Homo sapiens: one gene and its partners. The protein of the gene in region 4 purifies or fractionates together with the protein of the main gene of each other region. This does not show direct contact. Each region holds a gene or a part of one and is shown on either strand. Other genes may lie near its edges.

Region 1 (7,024 bases), on a different chromosome or scaffold from region 4:
CAAAAAGAACAAAGCTGGAAAAATCACACTACCCCACTTCAAACTATACTACAAAGCTACACTAACCAAAACAGCCTATTACAGACATGGAGCAATGGAACAGGATAGAGAACCCAAAACTAAAGCCACACACCTACAACCATCTGATCTTTGACAAAATTGACAGTAACAAGCAATGGAGAAAGGACTACCTATCCAATAAATGGTGCTGGGATAACTGGATAGCCTTATGCAGAAGAATGAAACTGGGCCCTTACCTTTTACCATATACAAAAATTAACTCAAGATGGATTAAAGACATAAATATAAGACCTAAAACTATAAAAAGCCGAGAAGAGGCTGGGCATGGTGGCTTACGCCTGTAATCCCAGCACTTTGGGAGGTCAAGGTGGGAGGATCACGAGGTCAGGAGATCGAGACCATCCTGGCCAACATGGTGAAACCCTGTCTCTACTAAAAATACAAAAATTATCTGGGTGTGGTGGTGTGCATCTGTAGTCCCAGCTACTTGGGAGGCTGAAGCAGGAGAATCGCTTGAATCCGGGAGGCAGAGGTTGCAGTGAGCCAATCGCACCATTGCACTCACTCCAGCCTGGGTGACAGGGCCAGACTCCTACTCAAAAAAAAAAAAAAAAAAAAAAAAAATCCTCGAAGAAAATCTAGGAGATATCATCCTGGACATTGGCCTTGGCAAAGAATTTATGACTAAGTGCCCAAAAGCAATTGTGACAAAAACAAAAATTGACAAGTGGGACCTAATTATACTAAAGAGCTTCTGCACAGCAAAAGAAACTATCAACAGAGTAAACAAACAACTTATAACCTGGGAGAAAACATCTGCAAACCATGCATCTGACAAAGGTCTAATATTCAGAATCTGTAAGGAACTTAATTCAACAGGCAAAAACCAAAAACTCTTAAAAAATGGGCAAAGGACATGAACAGACACTTCTCCAAACAATACATATACATAGGCAAGAAATATATGGAAAAATGTTCCACACCACTAAATCATCTGACAAATGCAAGTCAAAACCACAGTGAAATACCATCTCCCACCAGTCAGAATGACTATTATTAAAAAGACAAAACAAACAAACAAAAAACAGATGTTAGAGAGGTTATAGAGAAAAGGGAATGCTATATACTGTTGGTGGGAATGTAATTTTAGTTCAGTCACTGTAGAGAGCAGTTGGGATATCTCTCAAAGAACTTAAAACAGAACTACCATTCGACCCAGCAGTCTCACTACTGTATTTTTTCAACAAATATTTGTCATGCAGCTAATACAGACTTAATTTATTTTTTTTAATTTTTTTTTTGAGACAGAGTCTCACTGTGTTGCCCAGGCTGGACTGCAGTGGCGTGATCTCGGCTCACTGCAACCTCTGCCTCCTGGGTTCAAGCTATTCTCCTGCCTCAGCCTCCCAAGTAGCTGGGACTACAGGTGCCCGCCACCACGCCCGGCTAATTTTTGTATTTGTAGTAGAGACGGGGTTTCACCATATTGGCCAGGCTGGTCTCGAACTCCTGACCTTGTAATCTGCCCGCCTCGGCCTCCCAAAGTGCTAAGATTATAGGCATGAGCCACCGCACCCGGCCCTACAGACGTGATTTTATGATATAACCTTACCTTCATGAAGCTTAAAACATTCCTAAAACAGAACTCCCCCAACTATGACTTTTTTTTTTTTTTTTTTTTTTAGATGGAATCTCGCTCTGTCGCCAGGCTGGAGTGCAGTGGCGCGATCTTGGCTCACTGCAACCTCCAACTCCCTGGTTCAAGTGATTCTCCTGCCTCAGCTTCCCAAGTAGCTGGGATTACAGGCACAGGTGCCACCATGCCCAGCTAATTTTTGTATTTTTAGTAGAGACGGGGTTTCACCATGTTGGCCAGGATGGTCTTGATCTCCTCACCTCGTGATCTGCCCGCCTCAGCCTCCCAAAGTGCTGGGATTACAGGCTTGAGCCACTGCGTCCAGTAACTATGACTATTTATTGTAAGACTAAAATAATCCATGCTAATAGTCATTTCAATTATAATGTTTTTAATGAAATAAGGGAAAATAAAGAAAAATAAATCATTCTATCAAAAAGCCATATGCACTTGCATATTCACTGGAGCACTATTCACAACTGCAAAGATGTGGAGTCAACCTAGGTGTCCATCAATAGTGGACTGGATAAAGAAAATGCAGTACATATATGCCATGGAATACTATGTCGACATGAAAAAGAATAAAATCATGCCCTTTGCAGCAACATAGATGCAGCTGGTAGCCATTATCCTAAGCGAATTAATATAGGAACAGAAAACCAAATACTGCATTTCCTCACTTACAAGTGGGAGCTAAACAATGAGTAAGCACGGACCTAAAGATGGGAGCAGTCAACACTGGGGACAACAACGGGGGGAAGGTGGGAGAGGGGGCGAGAGTTAAGAAACTACCCATCAGGTACCATCCTCACTACCTGGGTGATGGTTATACATCAAACCTTAGCAACAGGCAATTTACCCATGTAACAACTTGCACATGTAACCTTCTAAAACTTTAAAGTTATGGGGAAAAAATATTGTTTAGAGAAATGTTTATTTTCATAAACACATTTGCTTATGAAACAATACTAATTTACGTTTAATCGTTTATAAAAATATAAAAGCAAAAAAATTAAAGGACACTAGTGTAATACAGCTTGCAGTATTTTTTCACAATTCTTTTTTTTAAGTATTCAGTAACTACTTAACTGACAGGAAAAAATAAAGAACAGGAATGGCAATTAAAATGCTAACTCTAATCAATCAATCATTTATCCAACAAATATTTGTCAAGCACCTAATATTGATTTAATTTTATGATATAATCTTACCTTGAAATTTAAAACATAGTTGTACCTTCCTAAAACAGAATTTCCCTAACTGTAAGACAAATAATTCATGCTAATAGTCAATTCACTTATGTTTTAGATGAAATAAAAATATTATTGTTTTAGATTACAAAAGTCATTTTTTTTTTTTTTTGAGACGGAGTCTCACTCCATTGCCCAGGCTAGAGTGCAGTGGTGCGATCTTGGCTCATTGTAACCTCCACCTCGTGGGTTCAAGTGATTCTCCTGCCTCAGCCTCCCTAGTAGCTGGGATTACAGGCACCTGCCACCATGTCCAGCTAATTTTTGTATTTTTAGCAGAGACAGGGTTTCGTCATGTTGGCCAGGCTGGTCTCAAACTCCTGACCTCAGGTGATCCACCCGCCTCAGCCTACCAAAGTGCTGGGATTACAGGCGTGAGCCACCAGGCCTGGCCCAGAAATTTGTTTTAAATTTAACTCTGTTACTGAGAAGACTTTATTAAAACAGCAAAAGCAAATCTTATCTTCATATGACCTAAATTATTATAATCTATAAAAAGAGATGTGGGAACATTAAAAAATCAAACACAAGTCTCTTTGTAGACAAATCCAATGAATCCATTTCCATTATAGTTACCTTAAGTCAGCCAAGTAATATACTGCTTCATTTATTCTCCATGCTCTTTCCCATAAATGAACTATGCTTTTCAAAAGGACATCGTTTTAAGCAAGGGGTCATAATGAAACATGTCTACCAAATAACCTATCACAAATGCTAGCATCTCAAAATCTAACACCACAAAAGTTTTTCTGTAATCCCAGCACTTTGGGAAGCTGACAGGAGGATTGTTTGAGGCCAGGAGTTCAAGACCAGCCTGGGCAACATATTGTGAGCCTGTCTCTTTAAAAAAAAAAAAAAGTTTTCAAATTAATGGTGAATAACTTTTGACACAAAAAATGTTTATGGCACTTCTGCTTGAGGTATAAAAATAATAAGCATAACTTTACTATACCTACAACAGACAAAAAGCAGAGTACAAAGCAGTAATATTAATAATAAAAGGTAAATACATAAAAAGAAAGAGGAACAGTATTTGGTATCAACAAATGTATATAAGGAATTCTAATATTCTTTCCTAATCAGATTCAAGAGTAATGTTTTTAATGAAATAAAGGAAAATAAAGAAAAAGGCATCAGAATTATATATCCTCTTGGACAATTTTTCCCTAAGTATGCTTCTCAAAATAATAGATAACAAAGTTCCCTAGAGGAAAAAAAAAGGTCTGGTCAGATAAATTTGGCAAACAGCTTACTTTTTATCTACATTTTAAAAATATCTGAAACTATAACACAGTGCCTGCTTACAAAACCTTGCATAAATACTAGAGGTTTTTTCTTTGTTAGTGGTCGTTGCACACACTTCTTTGCTGACAAAATTTTTTTCATGGACATCTATTCAAATTTTTTGAAGCATACCTTGGTAATGCTACGGCATGTATAATTTAAATGATTCTAACTTTTAAATGAACCCTATATAATCTACAAAATTAACCTTCCAAAAAGCCATGTAGTATTCAATAGGCCCTACTTAAAAAGAGTGCTTCGATATAGAAATGACCAAAACACAAATCATTATTACAGTTCTCTCCGACATTGTTATTGCAAAACAGGCCAAGAGAGAAAACACATTCCAGTTATGACATTGACCTGGTTATTAATGTAGAATACATCAACCCAAATAGGAATTTCAGACTACACATTTATAGTAACATGGTATAAAATGTGCTTGACTAAACGAAAACTATGTCTAAATTTAAGTCCACACTCTTTAATAACAATTTTTATTAAAAGAAAATATGGCTGTGTTTATATTGTTAGCCCTTCTGCTTTCTGAGACAGCTGATGAAAGTTTGATCTGGAAAGAGACCCCATAACAATGTTCTAATTCTGTATGCTTTTTCTGGACATTAGCAACTTTCATGTCTCGGGGTCCAACTTGAGAACAGAAAATGCCTCTATGATTCATCATCAAATGTAGTTAACACTTGCTTGGAATTTTCAAGAAACTAGCTTTAAAAAAGGTACAAGTTGGGGGCTGGGCGCAGTGGCTCACGCCTATAATCCTAGCACTTTGAGAGGCCGAGGCGGGCAGACTGCCTGAGCTCAGGAGTTCAAGACCAGCCTGGGCATCACAGTGCAACCCTGTCTCTACTAAAATACAAAAAAATTAGCCTGGCGTGGTGGCGTGCACCTGTAGTCCCAGCTGCTCGGGAGACTGAGCCAGGAGAACTGCTTGAACCCAGGAGGCGGAGGCTGCAGTGAGCCGAGATTACGTCACTGCACTCCAGCCTGGGCGACAGAGCGAGACTTCGTACCCCACCCCCCTACCCAAAAAAAAGGTGCTAGATAGAAGGCAGATATAACACTAAGCACACATAAGCTTACATTCAAAAGCATGAAGTCCCTGGTGGTCTAGTGGTTAGGGAAAAAGAGAAAACTAAAAAACAAAAGCATGAGTAGGATTTGTACTATAATAATATGCACCCAGCAAACTGTGTCAAGGCTAAAGAGGCTTCAATCACCAGAAATCAGTGTCAAGTAAAAAAGAGAAATGAAATGTAAAAGTACCCGACTCTGGGGCCAGGTGCCGTGGCTCACACCTGTAATTCCAGCACTTTGGGAGGCCAAGGCAGGCGGATCACGAAGTCAGGAGATCGAGACCATCCTGGTTAACACGGTGAAACCCCATCTCCACTAAAAATACAAAAATTAGCCGGTGTGGTGGCAGACACCTGTAGTCCCAGCTACTTGGGAGGCTGAGGCAGAAGAATGGCGTGAACCCGGGAGGGGGAGCTTGCAGTGAGCCAAGATTGCGCCACTGCACTCCAGCCTGGGCCACAGAGCGAGACTCTGTCTCAAAACAAAACAAAACAAAAACAAAAACAAAAGTACATGACTCTAAAACAGAAAAAGTTTAATGTGGATGAAATTCTGAATTTAAAATATCCAGTACTTTATAGAATTGACTATCCTATGATAAAATATTTACTACTTGACAGGTTCTCAAGAACATCTTTCTTTTTGAGACAGTCTCGCTCTCTCGCCCAGGCTGGAATGCAGTGGCACAATCTTAACCACTCAGTGGTTGCTCACTGCCAACCACCGCCTCGATTCTCCTGCCTCAGCCTCCTGAGTAGCTGAGATTATAGGCATGTGCCACCATGCCCAGCTAATTTTTGTATTTTTAGTAGAGACAGGGTTTCACCATAAAAATGTGCTTGACTCCAGAAAGGAGTTTGGCCAGGCTGGTCTCAAACTCCTGACCTCAAGTGCTCCATCTGCCTTGGCCTCCCAAAGTGCTGGGATTATAGGCGTGAGCCCCCGGCCTGAAGAACATCTTAATATCAGTCCAAAGTTACTCTTAACTAAGAGTATGAAAAGCTAGATACTATACAATCAATCACATAACTCTCACACATTTAAAAGATACTTAAATTCAATAAGAAAAAAAAAAACAAGAAAGCAGTCAAAGCATTTAGTAAATATGAAAAAATCCCTTAAGTAAAAAGCTTGACACAATGAACTTCATTTGAGAACTTCAGTTTCTAGTCTTTAAAAAGTGTTTTAGTACCTAGTAACGTAAGTTGCTATAATTACAGATCTGTGATTTCTTTCAAATAAAACTATAATTAATTCATTTCACAAGTATTTACTGGGCATCTACTACTGTGGAAAAACAAAGATTAAAATACATTATGAACCCTGCCCTAAAGACACTTTAAGAGTCTAGAAGGAATAAGATATATGCACACTGTAGTTAAAATGTAAAGGTAGCTCAGAAAGGAAAAAGCATCTGAAACGTGCTGGGGGAAAGTACAGATTAGGGGAGGCGCTGATGATGAATTTAAATAACAGGTCTAATTCAGACAAAGAAAAGAGCCCTTCCATTGGAAAAAAGATGTTAGAAAAAGCAAGAAAGATGGAAAGCCACCATGAAAAAAATTTAATTTTGCAGAAATGGAAAAAACTACAAAATAATAAATGATAATATAGAAGCTAGGGGTTCCAAGCTCTGGTAACTCAAATATCCTGGCCAGACTAAATCATCAATTAAAACATCTAAAATTGTATATACACTCCACTGATGCTCTATAAATACTTCTAAATTAGTAATCCA
Region 2 (7,024 bases), on a different chromosome or scaffold from region 4:
AAACACCAGAAAAGGAGGACAGTTATCCTTGGCAAGAGATTTAAAATGACCTAATATAACAAAGTTTAATGATTTGTCGGTCTTCAAACACAACTAACCAAAGAGTCAGTTTATTTCCCAACTGGTTAAAAATATGTATCTTTTTCTAAGCGAAACAAAATAGGAAACATAGAAAGACTCTTCTCTATCCCAATGCTTAAAATTTTTTGCTGTTTCACTTATGGTATGAAGACTCAAATTTCAACTTTGGGTAGATCAACCAAATGGCCTCTAATTTTCAAATGTTATTTAGCATCTACTTCAAGTTTCTCAAAGGGAGTCTAATTTCACATTTTACATCTTTAAAAGTTGTATTACACAAGATGTAAATTTCAGCCACAGATTCTCAATTGCAGGGGATAACTTGCTATCCAGGTTAGAATAAAAGCTTATAAGTAAACTACAGCAGGACAAGGGCGCTGGTATTGTATAGCAGTATTTATCATTCTACTGAGGAAACAAATGCCTAGCTGTTCTGCCTAGCCAGATCTTAAGTGACTATAGTAAGGCTGCTGCAAATTTCCAGTCTCCAGAAAAGATTCAAAGACAACACTGGATGTATTTCTTTTTTCTTTTTTTTCGGGGGAGGCAGGGGTGAGCCCCTAGGGGTACTCCTGTGTATGTCTAGTTTTGAAGAATAAATTAAGCAAAACTATTTTCAGGCCAAATAAAGCAAAATGGTAGGTAATCTCAAGAATGACTTATATTCTACAAGAGAATTTGTATTTCAAAATACTACTGTAATTCTAATTTACCATAATGACACTTCTGTGGCCCTACCAGGAAAAAAGCTTTATTTAATATGTAAACCAATCCAGAAAAACTATATTTGGTTAAGAAACCATGTATCCTAGAAGCTTTCACAAATTCTTCCTCACTAGATAGTCAATCCACTTCACAAAGCCCTTGTCAGGTAATGACTTAATTATGGCAGAGCTAACCTATTTCTTTTGTTTGTCTCTCACAGTGGAGACTGAACTCCTTGAGGACCCTTAGTCACTACTGAGTCTACAATCTCGGCACAAATTAAATTTCCACAGTTAAGAGGGAATGCATACTTACCTGGCACTTTTCAATTTTATTAAACCAACTTAGGAGGGTTTGAGAGTGTTTTGAATGTTTATTAGTTTTTAGCCAACCACAAAGAGTTTTTAAATTCTAATCTTCTGGTATTTCCCTCATTATAACCACCTGTTATCAGTACAGTTCCAAAGGCCCAAAATCTAATCTATGTTTTCACTGCATTTGCATTTGTCAAGTGGAAACATCACGATGTTTGGTGTCCCTGCCCCATACACATATATGCTTTAAAATTCTCAAGTGCTAAAGGTTAAATTAAAACTCAAATATGAAGACTCTCCAATCTACAAATTGGTTCCTTACAACTTGGGACCTGATCATTAACACTTGAAATGCTGTACCTTTAGATAAGGTGATTTACGGTTCTAACAGGTACTTTTAATAAATATAACAAGCTAAACTTGAGTATCTAGGAAGAAACTATGCAGCTGTTGATTCAAGCCTGAAAAACACATTTAAAGTAGCCCCCCCAGCCATCAACAGGGAATACATGCCAGTTCCTAGTGGATGCCTGAAACCAGGAATAGTACACCAAAACCTGTATATACTATGTTTTTTCGTATACATACCTATGATAAAGTTTAATTTATAAATCAAGCACAGTAAGAGATTAGCAATGACTAAGAATAGAACAATGATTTTAACAATACGCTATAATAAATGTTATGTGAATGGGATCTTTATCTTATTATACTGTACTCACCTCTTTTCAGAATATGGTTGACCTTGGGTAATTGAAACCACAGAAAGTGAAACTGCAGGTAAGGGGGAACTATTGTACTTATTATACATATTTTTTAAATTCTTACCTGCATTGTTAGTACCAGACTGACTGTCCTGGGAATTATCATTGCTTTCTGGGGGAGGCTGCAAGGAGGGTGATGGAGCTGTTTTAGTTCTTTTTTTGCTTGTCTTTCTTTCTACTTGACAGTCATCATCTTCATCATCTTCGCTTTCACTGAGATCATCAAAGCCAAAATACTTAATTTTGTAATTAGAACTTCCAGAACCTCCTTCATCACCTCCTGTCTCATGATCTTCAAAACCAAAAAATTCAAGTTTAACATCCTTTTTGGATTTAGTATTACTAGGTCGAAATCTAGTAGTAGTCTTAGAAGTTGCAATATCTGCCTTTTTTCTGAGACGACCAGCTTCTCCCAAATCTGCAGGAGTGGATGCAGTGAACTCATCCATGCTGCGTTCCATAGTATCCTGTATGGTAACATTACAAACTGACAAGCAAGATGGATGTAAAACAGTGTAATCTCTAGTCCGTCCAACTGTCCCTCTAAAACTGGTCCCACAACTTACACCCCCTTTCTTTGCCTGATTCAGGCCATCTTTACTCGATTCACTGTTTGCTTTGGCTAAGGCCTGACTGGTGCCGTCCATCAGCTTATCAAAATTTGATGCTCCTTGGGAGGATTTCGTTTTATTGGCCCTACAGTACGTCCTACAGTTGGTTGGCCTAAGAACACTTTGTACAATATCTTCCTCAATGGCTTCATTCAGATTTTCCAATCGATTTTTAAAATCGTCATCCTTCATCTCCAAAAGGGGATCACTATCCAAACTTAAAATACAGTCTTCTGATCTGATATCTTCAAAATCATTATCCCATTCAAACAAACCAGTTCTAACAGATCCCTTGATTGGAGATATTTCTGATGGTGATTCTGGCCTTTTCCCAAACTGGGAGTTCCAAGTATCATTTGTTTCCTTGATTTCAGAAGCCACTGTAGTTTCTGCATTGGGTTTCTTAGTACTGTCATCAGCATTTTTGTGAATATGGTGACTATTCTTTTCATGTTCTTCATGAAAATTCTCCACTTTATCTGTAAAAATAAGTCAAAGGATAAAAACATGAGTGGTATCAACATAAAAGTTAATAAATAACATATATGTGGTTAATCAATAGTATATGATCAATCTTGGAAGAACTGCAAATAATTTTAAGTTGTGAAGAAATTAACATTTACATATCAGACATTTCCTCTCCTATCTTTTCAGTGTATAGCTCTCATGCCTTCTACTGACCTTTCCTCAGGCAACCAAGTCCCTTAAAATTGTAAACTCACAAGAAATTTCAGCAGGGTTAAGCAACTGAATCCATTCAGAATGACATGTAAATGACTCAGCCAAACCTTCTTAGGGGTATTATGGGCTTTTCAAATAAAGATGCTTAAATTAAAAATCATTTAGTAAAACCTAAACCAACTGAACAGTTAATAAAAACCTTCTACCAGTGTTTTTATTTATCTGGGATAGGGCTGCCCATAAGGTATGCTAGTTCTATCCAGAAACCTGTCCATAGGATCAGGTTTCTCTAGCTATTTCTGTTCTTTCTTCTAATCCTAAATGCCATATAATCTCAAGGGAATTTTTAGCAGTAGTTCTGGTGTGTTAGTTAAATGGCTAATAGTGGCTATTTATGCATATCAGCCAGTAATAAATCCTCAGCCTGCCTATTCATCTGGTATGTGGAGAATTCATTTTTGTTGCCTTCAATTTTTACTATCAGAACATTTTTACAACCTTTCCAAATGAGATACAAATATGATTCCAACTGGTATTATTAATTCCCTCAACATTTACTTGTAGAAAAACACTGACAAAATGTATACCCTATGCCAAACAATAAAATTACTTCTACAAAATACATCTACATTTAAGAAAAGCTATTTACAAATCTCAATTAGCATCATCAAATACAGGTGAGAGGGATGCTTTACATGGACAGATTCACTGCATAATTTTTAATTCTACCCAATAGGTTTTCCTGCCCTCAAGACAGGATCTCACTGTCACCCACACTGGAATACAGTGGTGTGATCACAGCTCACTGCAGCTTCAGAGACCTCCAGGCCTCAAGTGATCCTCCCACCTCAGCCTCCTGAGCAGCACTCCCAAACAGCTGGAACTACAGGTGTGCACCACCACACCTGCCTAACTCCCCTTTTTATTTAACAGACAGGGTCACACTACGGTGCCTAGGCTGGTCTTGAACTCCTGGGCTCAAGCAAACGTCCTGCCTCTGCCTCCCAAAGTGCTACAATCACAGGCATGAGCCACCACGTCCAGCCTCCAAAGGGTTTTAATGTAATTTAACAGGTTAAGATTTGGTAATATCTTTTAAAACTAAAAATGTACATGTGAAAGAAAGGACTTACTCTTGAAGCCAGCAGTTTCATTTACAAGTATTTAGAAATAACTTTCCACGAACACAAAATTACATAAGTAACAAGAAACTCAATAGAACACTGTTTCCTGGTTTTTGCTTTCATAAACAATATACCAATTAATAAAGAATTAAATTACCATATAGCAACACACCTGAATACTATGCAGTTGTTAAAAAGAATGAGGCAGCTCTACATTATGTACAGATATGGATGCTCTTAGAGATGGAATGACTAAGGGATAAGGAACAAGAAAAGACTTTCATACTTCTTGAATTTTATACTGCATGTAAGTTGTCTATTCAAAAGCCAAAACATAAAAAATGCCAAAATTGTATATTTTTGGAGTCCTTATCTGTTAAAAAAATATATTTATGAATCAAATACAACATCTTGAATTTACTTTAGTGAGGATAAAAATGAAACAAGACTGGCAATGAATTGTTTGTTGAAGATTAAACAGTTGAACTGTTTAATGGAGATGGAGATACAAATAGACATTATTTTTGTAGACATAAACACACAAATGTATACATCTGTGTAACTGTATACTAGTCTATACACACAAATATATACAGACTTCCTTTACCCTCTTATAAGAAAATGAAGATACTTCCTTTGATTTCTTACCAAACCCATCATTACACAGATGAGAAAAAAAGGCCCAGAGGGGCTAATGACTGCAGAGGTTCTCAATTAAATCAATAGTCAAAAGAGACTTCATAAAAAAGACCCATACCAAACTATATTACACTACGTCTAGTGGTGGCTGCTAAACACTAAAATGCTAGGCCAGGCGTGGTGGCTCATGCCTGTAATCCCAGCAGTTTGGGAGGCCAAGGCGGGCGGATCATGAGGTCAGGAGTTCGAGGCCAGCCTGGCCAACATGGTGAAACCCTGTCTCTACTAAAAACACAAAAATTAGCCAGGCGTGGTGGCGGGCGCCTGTAGTCCCAGCTACTCAGGAGGCTGAGGCAGGAGAACTGCTTGAACCCGGGAGGCAGAGGTTGCAGTGAGCCAAGATCATGTCACTGTACTCCAACCTGGGCAAAAGAGCGAGACTCTGTTTAAAAGAACAACAACAACAAAACTAATTCACTGGCTGGGCGCGGGGGCTCACACCTGTAATCCCAGCACTTTGGGAGGCTGAGGTGGAAATAGCAAATGTTTATCTCACGGTGTGCTGAGGACTAAACTTAAACAATGCCTTTAACCTGTAAGAAATCTGTGCAAATGATACAAAGTGGCTTGGAGACCATAACCCATGAAATACAGTTGAGGCAACTAGAAAGGTTTAATTGGTGCAGGGATGGAAGAAAACTGCCATTACATGAAACCTGCCTTTAAATATCTGAATGGCTGTCATGATAAGAAAACAAACTTCGCCGGGTGTGGTGGCTCATGCCTGTAATCCCAGCACTTTGGGAGGCCGAAGCGGGTGGGTCATCAGGTCAGGAGATTGAGACCATCCTGGCTAACACAGTGAAACTCCGTCTCTACTAAAAATACAAAAAAATGAGCCAGGCGTGGTGGCGGGCATCTGTAGTTCCAGCTACCCGGGAGGCTGAGGCAGGAGAATGGCGTGAACCCGGAAGGCGGAGCTTGCAGTGAGCCAAGATCACACCACTGCACCACGGCCTGGGTGACAGAGCAAGACTCCATCTCAAAAAAAAAAAAGAATACACACATGAAAAATGCTTATCATTAGTTGCTAGGGAAACACAAAAGGTAAATTCCTTAATATACCAAGAATCCTTACACATCAGTAAGTCCAATGTCCCAGTAGAAAATGGCGCTAGGGGCCAGGCACAATGGCTCAGGCCTATAATGCCGGCTCTTTGGGAGGCCGAGTCAGGCAGATCACTTGAGGCCAGAAGTTCGAGACCAGTGTGGCCAACATGGTGAAACCCTGTCTCCACTAAAAAGACAAAAAAAACCCAGCCAGGCGTGGTGGCACATGCCAGTCGTCCTCGCTACTTGGGAGGCTGAGGCACAAGAATTGTTTGAACCCAGGAGGCAGAGGTTGTAGTGAGCTGAGATAGCACCACTGCACTCCAGCCTGGGCAACAGAGCAAGACTCTGCCTCAAAAATAAATGAATAAATAATAAGCCAAGAACACAAAGAAGCAATTCATTAAAATATATATCTATAATGAATTAAATAACTTATGAAGGATACTCAATTTCACTCACAATTAAAACTCAAAGTAAAACAAAGCTGAACTATATTTATATAAGCCCTCGGTATGTGCCTGGTAGTATTCTAAATACTTTCTATTAATTTATTTTATCTCAAAGCAACCATCAGGCCAGGTGCGGTGGCTCACGCCTGTAATCCCAGCACTTTGGGAGGCAGAGGTGGGCAGATCACGAGGTCAGGAGATCGAGACCAGACTAGCTAACACGGTGACACCCCATCTCTACTAAAAAATACAAAAAATTAGCCGGGCGTAGTAGCACACACCTGTAGTCCAAGCTACTTGGGAGGCTGAGGCAGAAGAATCGCTTGAACCTGGGAGGCAGAGGTGGCAGTGAGCCCCGTCGACAGAGCGAGACTCAGTCTCAAAAAAAAAAAGAAAAAGGAATAACAGGGACATAGCAGTACGTGCTTATAGTCCCACCTAGAGCTACCCAGGGCACTGTGGCCAGCGGTTCATTTGAGGCTGCTGTTATGATCACACCTGTGTGAGTAGCCACGCACTCCAGCCTGAGCAACACAGCGAGGC
Region 3 (7,964 bases), on a different chromosome or scaffold from region 4:
CTTCGGGTTGGTGACTGCCCACTGGTTGGTGAGGAAGCAGAAACCAACAAACCACAGGAAGGTCCAGAGAGCTGGGGGAGGACGGGTGAAGCGTCAGTTCCATGGAAAGGGAGGGGCTTTCCAGGACTCTGGGAGGGGACGCGGGCAGGTAGGGCAGGGACCTCCCGGGGGAGCCTCCACACTATGGAGGGGAGGACTTGGAAGCCGGGCCGGGAGCCACCTCCAAAGTCCCCCACACTCGGGCCTTGGCAGGGTGGGCCACAGCAGACAGCCTAGGGGACAAAAGGGGCAGAGGCAAAGCCCATCTGCTCGGGTGTGCTGCAGGTCCACTCAGCTTCTAGCTACCCCAGGCAGGGCTGGTGCCATTCAAGCACGGAAAAACACTAGCTGAAAACCCTTTCCTAAAAATGCCCTGGAGGAGTGAGCTGCTCCCTGCCCCTCCCAGAGAGGCCGAGACCCTCCCAGCTGCGGAACCCTAGAGTTAATGCCTCCCCCAAGATCAAATGGAGGTGCCACAGGCAGATACCTGAGAAGAGCAGGTCACCAATGACCAGGTACTTGCGGTCAGTGGCGTTGCTGATCTGGGGGAAATACGCGTCGACCACCAAGAAGAAGGCCGAGGCCAGGAAGGCCAGCACCCCGATGGCACTGCCATAGCGGCAGGCATCCTCGTTGCGGTTGAACACGCAGTACATCTGCTTAGACTCGTGGGCATTGCTGTAGCCCTCACCATAGATGCAGGAGAACACGATCAAGGCGAAGACCTGCCGGGAGGGGAGGACCTGGTAGGGCTGGTGGCCGCCTGAGGGGCACACACAGCGGGGACCCTGATGGGGTGTACAGATGCTGGCCTCTCCCACTACTGCTGTCCCCTTTTGGGTTTTTGTTGTTGTTTGAGATGGAGTCTTGCTCTTGTTGCCCAGGCTGGAGTGCAATAGTGCGATCTCGGCTCACTGCATCCTCTGCCTCCTGGGTTCAAGCAATTCTGCCTCAGCCTCCCTAGTAGCTGGGATTACAGGTGCCCTCCACCACACCCGTATTTTTAGTAGAGATAGGGTTTCACCATGTTGGCCAGGCTGGTCTGGAACTCCTGACCTCAGGTGATCCACCCTCCTCGGCCTCCCAAAGTGCTGGGATTACAGGCATGAGCCACCTCGCCCAGCCTGCTGTCCCCTTTTGGAGGCTGACATCTTAGCCCCTCCAAACTTGTGGAGGTGAGCTGATGAGCAAAGTGCTTCCTGATGCACCCCAGGATGAGAATCTGCAGGCACCAGGGGGCCTGCCCCTGGGAATCCTGGACCGGGGAGGGGTGGGGAATGGGCAGGGACCTCCTAGGCAGGGGCTGCTCCTGCCCCATCGGCCTGCTGCAGGAATCATTCTGCTTAGGTACCTGATGGATGAAGGGCAGTCCTTCCATCCCCAGCCCAACCTCACCTTGAAAGAGGTTTAACCAAGACAGGCCAAGTCACAAAGACTACCCATCCCCCGTCACCTTCAGCCCAAGTCACTTCTACAGCACCCAGCCTCTGCCTGAACACCTTGGTGAAGGTGGACAGGCCCTCTTGGGAAGGCCATGCTGGCGCCCCTGTGTCTTCACCTCCTGGAACCCCTGGAACCCTCCCTGGTTCAGCCTGGCCAGCTGTCTCCACACAAGGACTTGCAGCCTCTGTGGCATCCTGGTCCCTCCCAGTCTGTCTCCCACCCCACAGAGGGCCCTGCATGCACAGGGCACTACAAGGGGACTAACTCAGGCCTGTGGATACAGCTCTGAACTCAGACACCTGGAGGACCCAGGGTGGATGTAGGGGAGCTCCAGCCCCTTGGGAAGAGCCCCATACCACCTCCCTAAACTTGAAGGCCACCACCCACGCCTGCTCCACCTCAGCAGGTGTGGGACAGGTCTGTGAGCATCAGGATCCCTCTGGGATGGCCCCAGGACTCTCCCCTGCCAGTCCTGCCCTGTTGTCCCAGGGAGCTCTCCATAGGGCTCTGGAGCTGGCAGTCACAGGCCCCGCCCCCAGATGGAGATGAAGCCGGATCTCCGGGATGATGGGAGCAGGGTGCCCATCCAGGACTCCTGGCACTGCCATCCCGACCCACTGGGCACCTGATTCTTGGACACAGCCCAGGACAGAGGCGATCAGATCCCACAGCCTGGCTGGGAGCTGGTGTGGGCGCCCTGGAGGACCTCAGAAGCTCCAGGCCCAGGCATGGTCTGGGCACAGCAGGCCCACCTCTGCCTGCCCCCTCATGCCACCCCCTCCAGCTTTCAGGGCTGGCTGTCCAAGAACAGGCCCCCTCCCCGCCACACACACACACACACAAAACCTGGTTTTGGAGGTATTGCCCACCTTACAGGGAGGGGGTACATCTTGGGGTCCCTCAACTTCGGGTGGGAAGGCGGACCCGTGGCCTGCCCCGAGTGGGAAGGACACCCTGTTTCCGGGCGTTGGGTCGCCCCCCGCCCCCTCCCTTACCCCACGTGGCTTCGGAAAACCCCGTCCCGGTGAACTCCCCAATCTGGGAGTCGCGGCGTGCGGGCCACCTGTCCGGGAGCCGCCCCCAAACTCCTCCCACTGCCAGCGAGGCAGGGGCCCGCTCCCTGCGGAGATCCGGACACCCCGCGTCGGGGCGCGAGGCTGGGGGTGGGGTGGGTGGCGGGACCCGGGACCGGGAGGGGACAGCGGGACAGACTGTGGAGGGCGGGAAGGCGGGGCCCGGGACGCTGGACGCCGGCCCCGCTCGCCGCCAGGCCCCGGACGCGGCCGCCGCCACCTGTCGCGCTCGTGGGCTAGGGGCCCCGCCGGGCCTGGCGACGGAGAGGGGGTCCCCAGGGTGCCCTCGGCCCGCCCTCCCCGGGCTCACCAAGCACACGGCGCGCGCCACCACCTGCGGCTGCGTCAGGAAGCGCCGCAGGTCGAAGGAGCCGCCCGCCTTGGCCGCGCCGTAGGCCCCGCTCTCCATGTCGCCGTCGCCGCCGCTGCCGCCGCCGCGGAACGCAGAGGAACCTGCCCGGCGCCCCGCCCGACTCCACCCGCCGGGGGCGTGGCCAGGCGCCGCTAGGGACCGAGGGCAAAGTGCGGCCCTCGCGAGCGGCGGGCGAGCCGCGGGACTGCGCTTCTAGAGGCGGGGAGGGGCTGTGGCCGCGGAGCACCCGGGTCCACCCCACCTCGGGGTTGAGGGGCTAGTCTCCGGGCCACGCCGGCCGCAGCACGGACCAGAAAGGGTCAGAGAGTCCCCCGGGAAGACGGACGAACTGAGGACCGCTCACCCTCTTTGCCCCTGCCCTCCCACCGCCTCCTCTAGGAAGCCCACCACCTACCAAGAACCCACCCAGGCTCATAAGCAACCCCTCCCCCATCCCACTGAAAAACCCAGGCCACACCCTGGAGCCCCTCCCTGCCTGGCCTGCCACTCTTTCCTCCTCTCTGGGGCTAAGCCTGGGGTAGGGTCAAAGACCCCCTCCCCATTCCTCCTGGTCTGGGCAGAGCCCCAAGGCTGTGAAGGGCAGTGTGGCGTCACACTTAAGATGGTGTGCAAGGCCGGGAGCGGTGGCTCACACCTGTAATCCCAGCACTTTGGGAGGCCGAGGCGGTTGGATCACCTGAGGTCAGGAGTTCGAGACCAGCCTGACCAACATGGAGAAACCCCGTCTCTACTAAAAATACAAAAATTAGCCTGGTGTGGTGGTGCATGCCTGTAATCCCAGCTACTCGGGAGGCTGAGGCAGGAGAATCGCTTGAACCTGGGAGGTGGAGGTTGCGGTGAGCCGAGATTGTGCCATTGCACTCCAGCCTGGGCAACAAGAGCAAAACTCTGTGTCAAAAAAAAAAAAAAAAAAAAAAAAAAAGATGGTGTGCAAGGCCGGGCGCAGTGGCTCACACCTGTAATCCCAGCACTTTGGGAGGCCGAGGCGGTTGGATCACCTGAGGTCAGGAGTTTGAGACCAGCCTGGCCAACATGGTGAAACCCCGTCTCTACTAAAAATACAACAACAACAAAAAAATTAGCTGGGCGTTGTGGTAAGCGCCTGTAATCCCAGCTACTTGGGAGGCTGAGGCAGGATAATTGCTTGAAACCGGTAGGCAGAGGTGGCCGTGTGCTGAGATCGAGCCACTACACCCCAGCCTGGGCAACAGAGCAAGAGTCCATCTCAAAACAAACAAAACAAACAAACAAACAAACAAACAAACAAAACCAAAAACGAAAGTTAGCGAGGCGTGGTGGCAGCTACTAGCAGTCCCAGCTATTCCAGAGGCTGAGGTGGGAGAATTGTCTGAGCCCAGGAGGCGGAGTTTGCAGTGAACCAAGATCACGCCTTTGCACCCCAGCCTGGGTGACAGAGTAAGACCACATATCGGCCGGGCGTGGTGGCTCACGCCTGTAATTCCAGCACTTTGGGAGGCTGAAGCAGGCGGATCACGAGGTCAGGAGATCGAGAACACCCTGGCCAACATGGTGAAACCCCGTCTCCACTAAAAATACAAAAATTAGCTGGGCATGGTGGCGCGTGCCTGTAGTCCCAGCTACTTGGCAGGCTGAGGCAGGAGAATCGCTTGAACCCGGGAGGCGGAGGTTGCAGTGAGCCGAGATTGCACCATTGCGACAGAGCGAGACTCCATCTCAAAAAAAAAAAAAAAGAAAAGACCACATATAAAAAAATATATATATGGCATGCAAACAGAAATGAAGTTTTCAGGGCGACAGGCAGATGGCAAAGTTTAATCCAGTTCCAGTTCAGCCCCCTCTCGCCTCCGTCCCTCTCTACCTCCATCCCAAGAAAAACCGGTACAGAGGGTCTGGTGCAGGGTAGGCTGGGGCAGGCTCTGTGTGTGTTGGAGTGGGGAGCGGAGGTTGTACAGACAGAGGTGTGGGATCACAGGCTGACTGAACCCGGAAGAATTCCAGACCCCCCTTTGCTAGTTGCAGGTGCAGATTAACAACAGCAGGTGTGCCAGGTGGGGCTCACAGTCAACCCAGGTGAGCTGGACCACGTGAGAGTTGAACCATAGGACTGGGCCACCAGGAGGTGGGGTGCCTCTCCAGGGAAGAGGGGAGCAGGTGGGGGGGAGGGGCTGGGCCTTTTCGCAGTGTGCCCCCCTCCCTCTCCCTACACCCAGAGAGATGTGACAGCACCTGAGAGGCGAGGACAGGGCCACACAGACCCCCTTATTTCTGTGACCCTCCTGAAGCCCTCACACCAACAGTGTCTGTGTTTGCTGAAGGCCACCAGCACTCCAAGAATCCCAGCTGGCAGGCTTTTTTCTTTTTTTTAAATAAATGTTTTTGTGTATATTTAAGGTAGACAACCTGATATGATGGGATTCATATAGATAATATAGATAGCACAAAGGTTCCTATAGCGAAGCAAGTTAACATATCCACCATCTCTCATAGTTACCCTTTTTTTTTTTTTTTTTTTTTTGTGGCAAGAGCAGCTAAAACACACTCATTTTGCATGAACTCCAAATACGAACAGTGCACGCTGATGGCCTGCAGTCCTCTGCCGTGCTTGGCTCTCTGGACGGTTCATTCTACATGGCTGCTGCTTTGCGTCCTCTGACCTCCCCATTCCCTATCCTGAACCCCCCAAACTCCTCTTCACTCAGACGGCGGGTGCTCCTGTAGAGCGGCAAGGCAAGGATGGGGCTCTCCAGGGGACCCTGCCAGTCCTCCATCTTCTGGTCACCACCTTGACAAAGCAGTGGAGACTCAAGTCAGGCAGGCTCACCTCCCAGCCATCCCCTCCCGAGGCGTCTGAGAGTGTTCGTTTGTTTTGAGACGGAGTTTTGCTCTTTTTGTCCAGGCTGGAGTGCAATGGCACGATCTCGGCTCACTGCAACCTCCACCTCCTGGGTTCAAGTGATTCTCCTGCCTCAGTCTCCCGAGTAGCTGGGACTACAGGTGCGCACCACCACGCCCGGCTAATTTTGTATTTTTAGTAGAGACGGGGTTTCTTCATGTTGGCCAGGCTGGTCTCGAACTCCTGACCTCAGGTGATTCGCCTGCCTCAGCCTCCCAAAGTGCTGAGATTCCAGGCATGAGCCACTGTGCCCGGCCTGCCTCTGGGAGTTTTATGGTGCCAAGCACATCAGTGCCCCAGCAGAAGAGACATGAGGCTTACTCACCCCACTAAATGAAGGCTGTACCCCATTTTACAGAAGGAAAAACTGAGGCTCGGCGAGGTGACATGGCTCACCCACGAGTCTGGCTTCTGGAAAGAACAGACTTGGTAGAAGTGAGATGGGAAAGTGCCAAGGACAGACTCCTGGTAGAGCCACGTAAGGGCCTGGGCCACGGGCAGAGGATGAGAACCAGGACACGGCAGTGTCTCCCAAACAAAGAGAGATGAGTTCACAGAGGCAGGGCTGGCCACCACCAAAGCCAGACAGGCAGAGCACACAGGCCTGTGGTGCCTGCACTCAGACACTACAAAGGCCTTGGTCACTTTACATGTTAGTAAAGCCATGGCCTTGGAGAGGGGACCCTGGGAGGCTGGGCCCCAGGCTCTTGCCACCACCTCGGAAAGACTGCCCAAGGTGGTTCTCACAGAAGGCAGGAGCTCCTGGTCCACCTTGGTCTCCTGGAGGCATCATCCCTGCAATCCCTGCTCAGACCCCATAAAGAACTTAGGAGACTGCCCTCCCAGAGGCCAGCAGACTGTGTTACAGGGCACCTGGGAGCACTGGTCAGGGTCCGATAACGCCTTGAATGTGTAAGCCTCAGTAGGCACATGGCACACAGTAGGTCCTCATAAACACCTTCGAGTCATGCGTAAGCGGTGATGGCCGCTCTTTGCCCTGGCCACAGCCCTGCCCTGCAAGCCCCACCACCTGAGCTCTGCAGCCAGGGCCCGGTTGGACCTCTCAGGCCATCAGCAGCTCTCCCTCCTCCCTGCATCGAGCACCCATTTCCTACCTGGCCCACGTGGTCCAGCCCAGCATCCTGGAGGTGATGGCCGCAGTGGAGGCAAGGCTGCCAACCAGCACGATGGTGGGTGCCCTGGGCAACCCTCCTGGGAGGGGGCGGAGGCAGCTGGGTTGGGCTTCCTTTAGGCAGGGGCCAGGGTGGGCATGGTTGCCTCCTGTGCCCTCTCTGCTCTCAGCAGTGGCCGGGTAGAGCTGTCCCACTTCCCATCGACCTGTGTCTTGGACACTAGCACCCTCCCGGCACAGAAGCGCCAGCTGCCCCTCTGGAAATCCAAGGGCCCTCTCACCTGGGGGCACCACTGTGAGGGCGCTGTGCTGGACATTGGCGTTGTTTGCAGCCTGGCACCAGAACCAGTCCGATGTCTGGCTCGGCAGGAAGGAGAAGTTGGCAGGCTGCCTGTGGCATGGTCTCTGCTGCAGGTGGACCTGCCCATCCTTCCCGATCAGGCTGTTGGTGATAGGTGGGCTGCCCGAGGACGCCTGGCAGATCATCTCCACCCTGGGGCCTGCCCCTCTGTCCTGCAGAGTGAAGTTGGCCCGCAGCTCAGACACTGGCTCTGGCAGGGTGGGAGAAGGTAGCACAGGCATGGCTGAGCGGTTTTAAACCCCTCCTCCTCAGTAAGTTCTCCTCATTACAAAATGCCTAATGAGCTTAGCTGTGGCTGCCGCCTCCTCCAGGCCGCCTTCTAGAGTTTGCCCTCCACCTTGTGTCTGGGCTGCTGCCCTACCTGCCGTGTGTACCACACAATTTCACATTTGGTTTTTATCTTATTCTTACTTTATTTTGAGACAGGGTCTTGCTCTGTCGCCCAGGCTGGAGTGCAATGGCGCGATCTAGGCTCACTGCAACCTCCGCCTCCCCAGCTCGAGCAATTCTCCCATCTCAGCCTCCCGAGTAGCTAGGACTACAGGTGTGCACCACCACATCCAGCTAATTTTTGTATTTTTTGCAGAGATGGGGTTTCACCATGTTGGCCAGGCTGGTCTCAAACTCCTGGGCTCAAGCAATCTTCTGCCTCAGCCTCCCAAAGTGCT
Region 4 (7,024 bases):
CAGGGATCCTTAGAGATATTCAGAACACATTCCGAGACCTCTGCAATAATTCATACTTAAAAAAAAACTTATCCCAGTCGCAGGATTTTATGAATGTTGAATCCATTAATTATATTATTTATCATTAGATTATGAGTCCCATGAGGGAACTGATGTATCCTACAAATATCCTTAATATTTACCTTTAAGGAAAGGCTTAATAAAATTTTATTAAATGAAACAAATTCTGTTTAACTCTGCTGCCATCTTTTGTATACTTTGTACAGTGACTAACCTTGTTGTCAAGAAACTGGCCTGTCCTTACAACCAAGAAGGCTTTTGAACTAAGGGTGTGACATAGGATCAGTCTAGAGTCTAAAGACATTGTGTGACTTCAACATGTTACATTTTTTCTGACTCTTCAATAATAAAGGAAAGTATAATACAAGGGTTGGATTGCATCATCTCTAAGGTTCTTTTACCTCTAAAATTCAGTATTCTAGGACAATGTATTTTAATTTACTACAGTAGTTGATGGTGGATAGGAGATACCAATAACAGTTCAGAATTAGCAGTGTGCAGGGAAACAATTTCAGATAACCTTGGCAAGCCTCCAAGAATAGCACAATGTTTATAGAAGAAAATGTGGGAATATTTGACAAGTTAAAACCAACACCTCATGGGATCCAGACTTTGAAAGCTCAGCACCAGTAGTAAGCAGCACTAAAGAACATGGTTACTGAATTGTGATCTGAGCATCTCTGCTTGTTGCTTGAATGTGAACCTTCCTAAGCTTAAATTGTTGGCTATATTCAGGAAATTATCAGAAAACTGCATAGGATTCTTGCCCTTGATTTGAGGTGGAGACTGTTGCACTAAAAATACTTTGCTATACATGGTAATCATGGAAAAGTAAAGATTCTTCAATGTCTAATATGCAATTATATATAGAATATTTCTTAATGCTACTTCCAATGTAGATAATATCAGAAAAAAACAATATTAGCTTGCAAAAAAGAAAATTCAGTACAACATTAAAAGTGTTCTTTTGTTAAGATAGTTGTTGAACATCGATATGAACTGTAGATAAAAGTTGTTTAGTCACTTTTGGCTAATGCCATTTATGTAACTCTTATGATCCATCCAAGATTACAGTGGTGGTTAAGACTAAGAGTTTTGGACTTAAAAAACTCAAATTTGAGTTAGAATCTTAATAATGCTAGCTGTGTAATCCATGTATTTCTCTAAGCCTTACTTTTCCCATTCATAAAATAATGATAAAAGTACCCACTACTAATTGTAAGTACCACATAAATAATAGTTATTATTATTACAACCTATGTTGCTTCTCTTTAGTGGAGGAATAAAAGAATGTGTTTGAGGTCTTAAGAAACAGATATTTTAAAAATTTTAAAATTGAAATTTCTCTTAACTTAAAGAAAGTTTAGTTAAAATTGTTTTCTGCCTTATATTACTTATACAGAGACTCTTAATTTGATGGTTAACATATTATGCAATTGATATAGTGATATATACAAACCCATCATAGGTCATGGTTAGTCCGGCAACTGATTTGTTTTCACAGAGTATGAAAAAATATAATAGGTAAAAGGACAATGACATCACAGCAGTAAAACATGAGAATTTGGCAATTCCAACGGTGTTCAGTTTGAATTTTTTAATGATATATCCTCCTAAAAACATTCCACTTGCAAAAATAGGTATGGTTATGACTCCTAGAAAAAAAAGAAAAAAAGTTGTAATCATATATGAGTTTTCTGATATGTCTTTATAGATGAAACACAATGTATGTCAATCAAATTTATTCAATATTATTGCTTCTTTTTAAAATTTTACTTTAAGTTCTGGGATACATGTGCAGAATGTGCATGTTTGTTACATACATATACATGTGCCATGGTGGTTTGCTGCACCTATCAAACTGTCATCTAGGTTTTAACCCCTGAATGCATTAGGTATTTGTCCTAATGTTCTTCCTCCCCTTGCTTCCCACCCCTCAACAGTCCCCGGTGTGTGATGTTCCCCTCCCTGTGTCCATGTGTTCTCATTGTTCAACTCCCACTTATGAGTGGGAACATGCAGTGTTTGGTTTTCTGTTCCTGTGTTAGTTTGCTGAGAATGATGGTTTCCAGCTTCATCCATGTCCCTGCAAAGGACATAAACTCATTCTTTTTTATGGCTGCATAGTATTCCATGGTACACATGTGCCACATTTTCTTTATCCAGTCTATGATTGGTGGTCATTTGGGTTGGTTCCAAGTCTTTGCTATTGCAAATAGTGCTGCAATAAACATATGTGTGCATGTATCTTTATAGTAGAATGCCAATCTTATTACTTTTTAAAAAGAAGAATGATATAGCAGTATGGTGGTAGGGGATCTGTGTAATTTGTTCCTGCCAATGATGACAGTTTGGTTTCCTCAATAGCAAAAGGCAGTGTGGCTGAGGATATTTGTTGGAGCAGATAATTTCTATGAGGCAATTTTGTTTTTCTGGAAATAAACAACAACAAAACACCATCTTTCTGCCTATGGAACTTCATCTAAAGCCTTTTGCCTCTCTCAGATAGAGTTCTAACCCTCAGTAACTCACACTAAATCTGCCCAGAGCTTAACAACATAAAAATTAATATATCTTTGTCATTTATTAAAAAACATACAGAACCTGAACTGACAAATCGCTCTACATACAGGATTAATAATGTTTAATCCCTCCTATAACTTTTCCATATCTTTGTCTAATAAGAGTTAACAAAGATGAAGTCTTCTCTAGGAAAAAGCTCAGGCTAGGTTACTGGGAGTCAAAACATTATTTTTCGATTTTAAACTTTTATCTTAAGATCAACAAAGAGATTATCTGGAAGCTTGGTCTCCTGCTTCAGTACATTCATTTTCTTGTTTACTTATGACCTAGTTACATACCACATGATAAGTTGTTTAATTCATCATATATTTATATTGAATTTCTATAATGTGTCTACAATACTAGAGTTGTGGGAAGAATAATACAAGGAAACTTTCCTTAATAAGCACATCTAAATGTGCCATTGAAAATAGATATTGTAGCAAAAAATACTCTGTAAAATATATTTGTTTTGAATTATGCATATTTTGATGTATTTAAATCGATACTCTTTTTGGAACTATTAGTGTCATATTTTTGTAAGTAACTGAGTCTTGATTTCAAAGTCCATAAATTATAGAATTATAATGATTATAATTACAAAAGGGTTTGTCTCAGATCTTAGCACTAAATTATAAGATCCAATTATACAGATACTACCTCTAAATTGTCCATTTATTTGCAACATTTTTTTCAGGAACTCATCTAAAATAAGATGCAACTTCAAATGCAGAGCAATAGTGACATCACAAGTTTTATATGTTTAATAACATTTGAGAAAGAATACAAGAAAATTATACTTATCCTGTATTACTAAAATACAAAATCACTTTCACAATAAAATACCACTTGGAATACAGTATTTAGTATTATTTCACTTATTAAGCACACAAGTAAAAAATATGTCTTACCCAATAAGATGTTAGCCTTAGATGAAGGCTGACCATACTGTTGCTCTACGTATTTGAAGACATAAGTAAAAGCACCAATATAGCTGCTTACTTGTAACAACGTCAAAAGCACAAACATAACATACAGGGGATTAGTAAGGATGCTTTTAAAAGACTGGAAAAAACCTGTAAAATTGTAAAAATAAAGAAAATATTTGAATGCAACTTAAATATACATTTATATCTAAAATTTGTGAACGTAAGTCATGTAAGATTTAAAATTCTATAAACACATAACACAAAGAGTGAGAATAGCCTGCAATACCACAGGCTGTTCACAGCTTTTAAATATATTCTTTCAATATTTTCCATACGAATATTAATATTTATTAGTTTAGTTTATTTTACCCTCAAATAGGGTCATACGTAAGTGCTGTTTTGTAACTTGCTTTCTTCACTTAATATTTGGTTATCCTGGGTACTTTACAATACTATTGCAAACATATTAATTCACTTATTCATTCATTCAGCAAATGTTAGGTTTTCAACTGGGTACCAGACAATATGCTAATTGTTCAAAAAACAAAAGTGAAGGCCGGGCACAGTGGCTCACTCCTGTAATCCTAGCACTTTGGGAGGCCGAGGCAGATGGATCACCTGGGGTCAGGAATTCGAGACCAGCCTGGCCAACATGGTGAAACCCCAACTCTACTAAAAATACAAACATTGGCCAGCACGATGGCACACACCTGTAATCTTAGCTACTTGGGAGGCTGAGGCAGGAGAATTGCTTGAATTAGGGAGGCGAAGGTTGCAGTGAGCTGAGATGGTGACACTGCACTCCAGCCTAGGCAATAGAGCAACAAGACTCCATCTCAAACAAACAAACAAACAAACAAACAAAAAAACCCAAAAACAAACAAACAAAAAGTGAATAAGACATATGATGTTTCTTATTTATTAGTACTTAATGATATAAGTATTATATTAAAAATATAACTATTAAATGGAAATGTAAAGACAGCATAATTCAAAACTCACAGAAATAAGACCATTGAGGTTCAAAATTCTTAAAGATTAATTTAGTATGAGGACTCAGACCTCCTGTTTCTCTAGTATACAGCTCTTCTACCATAACATACTTTCTCAGTAAATTTGGCAATATTATTAACCCTCTGTCTTAAGATACAAGGAAAGCAGCCAGGGGATAATATTGTGTCCCAAGTAGTATTATAATAGTAATAATACAACCACCTATCCCTACAAACAGCTGTGGTAACAAACTTCTAACTTCTGTTCATGGTAGAAATTATGTCATTTGGATCTGTGATCACCAGGTCAACTAGCTGTAATAGGACTTAAAAGTAGAAGGAACTACTTAGAAAAACAGTAGGAAGTATCAGAGTTCATCAAGACAGAGCCAAGATATGGTTACTGAGAGTTGGATGATACGGACTTTGAAATATTTTTCTCTATTTAAATCTCTAAAGATTTTCATTAGATATGGTCAGAACTAAGACATCCATTTAATGTCAGCTACGAAACAGTTGCATCTGCTTGAAATAAGGAGTAGAAGGAGTTAGAGAAAAGAAACAGAAAAGAAAAAAAGAAGAGATAAGAAAATGTATAGTGGGAATAAACAACATTTAAAATTCTTGGGCAAAAGTGCCACATTTCTCTCCACAGGTCTCCCCAGTCATGAAAAACCATCCCTGATTTGTAAGTATTATAAGTGAGTTGTGGCCTTTCTTCAACAGAAATGGAGTATATACATTCACACAAGCGTTGCATTTTTGAGGATGAGAAATTCAATGTCATCCAGTGTAAACTTCTGTATAGTCATGATCTACTATATATCATTAATAAGTGGATCAATAAACAACTTAAGTGGCATTAAACTAAGTACCTTAGGAAGCAATTTCCTCCACTTTTGAAAAGTTCTCATTGTTTACACACTGTTTTTGTAATGAACTGAAATCATCTTTTCATTCTAATCAGTTTTAGTTCTATTCAAGAGCATATGGAATAAATTCAATATTTTTTCTGACTATATATTCTTATTTTATCCATTCCTAATAGATACATACTTAAGATCCTCTTTCTTAGGGTCACACCTACAAAAACTGTTCATAATAGAGATTATGTCTACAATTGTCCTATTTTTACAACTTCATTATCCTCTCTGTTCTGTTTGGATCACAGTCAACCCCGCTCCTTATAGGTTTAGACAATCTACTATTTTTTAAAGATTTGATTTGGTACAGTAGAAACATCATATACAAAATGAAAATTATTGGTATAGTACTTTTAGTGTGAATGTTAAATTTTAAAAACATAAATGTTTAACATCTGATTCTTAGGAAAACAAACTTCTACTTGTAGTATATCCCAATTTCCATGGTAATAAATCATGGTAATTCTCTTGCCATGAACAATTTCAACCTACCAATGTAGCTGAAACTTAACAGTCCTCTGCTATGAGCCAATATAAAGAGTACCAGAACACCACTGCTCTTGGGTTAGTGTGATAGAAAGGAGAAAATAGCAATAAAGTAATAAGTAAAAGACCTGATGAAAGGAAGAACCTAGGCTACACTGGAGAATTTGTCATCTTACTTTAAAGAAAACTTGAAAAAGATGCTGAGGGTTTAAGTGTTGCATTGCTTTGGCTATTTCACCATTTCTCCCAAATCTGAAAACTGCTGTCAACACCTCACTGATTCACATATCTTGCTCTGGCTACTGCCAAGTCATTCTCTTTGTTTATTGACTCTCAATGGTTCTCCATTAGTCCCAGGGTTTATATTCAAAAGAGGAGGCACTGTCAAATGCTGATGCATCCTAATTTACATTACTTAGTCTAATTATCTTAACTACCACCTTTGCTTCCACTTTATTTTGAATATTTAGATAAGATAGATAGATAGATAATTACCAAAATAAATATTACTCTAATTACATAGGGAGAAACTTCTCCCGACTTCCTTCTCCTTAATCCATCTCTACACCTGATAATAGTTAAGTTTAATTTCACCATAATACTTAAGGCACTATATTGCTATTGTCTATATATTTCTCAGCATCACCCACTAGGTTCTTGAAAAATAGAGGTAATGTTTTATTACCAGGGCATAGTACAGTTCCTGGTACTACTTGTTGAATAAATGAAGGAATGAAATATTATAATTCTTTGAACTCTCCCAGTTTAGACCATATAATACTAAAATTAATATTTACTATTTGGCTCATAAAAAATGGATGTTTGTAAACTTTTGTTGGTTTCTCCCTGCTAAAAAGTACAAACCTAATTCTCTTCCACTTGTTATGTGCTCAAGACATATATGTTAACTTTAATAGGAGTTTTAGAAAAATAATTTATCTAAATTTAGTGCAAAAGAAAGCCAACTCCAGATGAGTTGGGTATGCTTTATTATTTTGGAATACTCATTCTTCCTTTTCATTGAGATTAACAACTCCAAATTGACAATGAATGTTAAATACTTACCAGTCAC

The links.
Region 1: the proteins of SLCO1B1 (region 4) and USO1 purify together in Homo sapiens (affinity purification with mass spectrometry; 3 studies listed by BioGRID and IntAct, with this or other methods). This does not show direct contact.
Region 2: the proteins of SLCO1B1 (region 4) and WAPL purify together in Homo sapiens (affinity purification with mass spectrometry; 2 studies listed by BioGRID and IntAct, with this or other methods). This does not show direct contact.
Region 3: the proteins of SLCO1B1 (region 4) and SYNGR2 purify together in Homo sapiens (affinity purification with mass spectrometry; 2 studies listed by BioGRID and IntAct, with this or other methods). This does not show direct contact.

Annotation. Positions count from the first base shown.
Region 1 is NC_000004.12:75,727,557-75,734,580, reverse strand, and holds part of USO1 (general vesicular transport factor p115), read right to left. Parts: intron 1-7,024. UniProt on the Homo sapiens protein: General vesicular transport factor required for intercisternal transport in the Golgi stack; it is required for transcytotic fusion and/or subsequent binding of the vesicles to the target membrane.
Region 2 is NC_000010.11:86,497,790-86,504,813, forward strand, and holds part of WAPL (wings apart-like protein homolog), read right to left. Parts: intron 2,955-7,024; coding exon 1,929-2,954; intron 1-1,928. UniProt on the Homo sapiens protein: Regulator of sister chromatid cohesion in mitosis which negatively regulates cohesin association with chromatin. Involved in both sister chromatid cohesion during interphase and sister-chromatid resolution during early stages of mitosis.
Region 3 is NC_000017.11:78,163,617-78,171,580, reverse strand, and holds the start of SYNGR2 (synaptogyrin-2), read right to left. Parts: upstream 3,001-7,964; 5' UTR 2,965-3,000; coding exon 2,866-2,964; intron 765-2,865; coding exon 527-764; intron 72-526; coding exon 1-71. Other genes in the region: C17orf99 (protein IL-40), read right to left, coding at 6,915-7,486. UniProt on the Homo sapiens protein: May play a role in regulated exocytosis. In neuronal cells, modulates the localization of synaptophysin/SYP into synaptic-like microvesicles and may therefore play a role in the formation and/or the maturation of this vesicles.
Region 4 is NC_000012.12:21,197,182-21,204,205, reverse strand, and holds part of SLCO1B1 (solute carrier organic anion transporter family member 1B1), read right to left. Parts: coding exon 7,018-7,024; intron 3,699-7,017; coding exon 3,534-3,698; intron 1,716-3,533; coding exon 1,520-1,715; intron 1-1,519. UniProt on the Homo sapiens protein: Mediates the Na(+)-independent uptake of organic anions.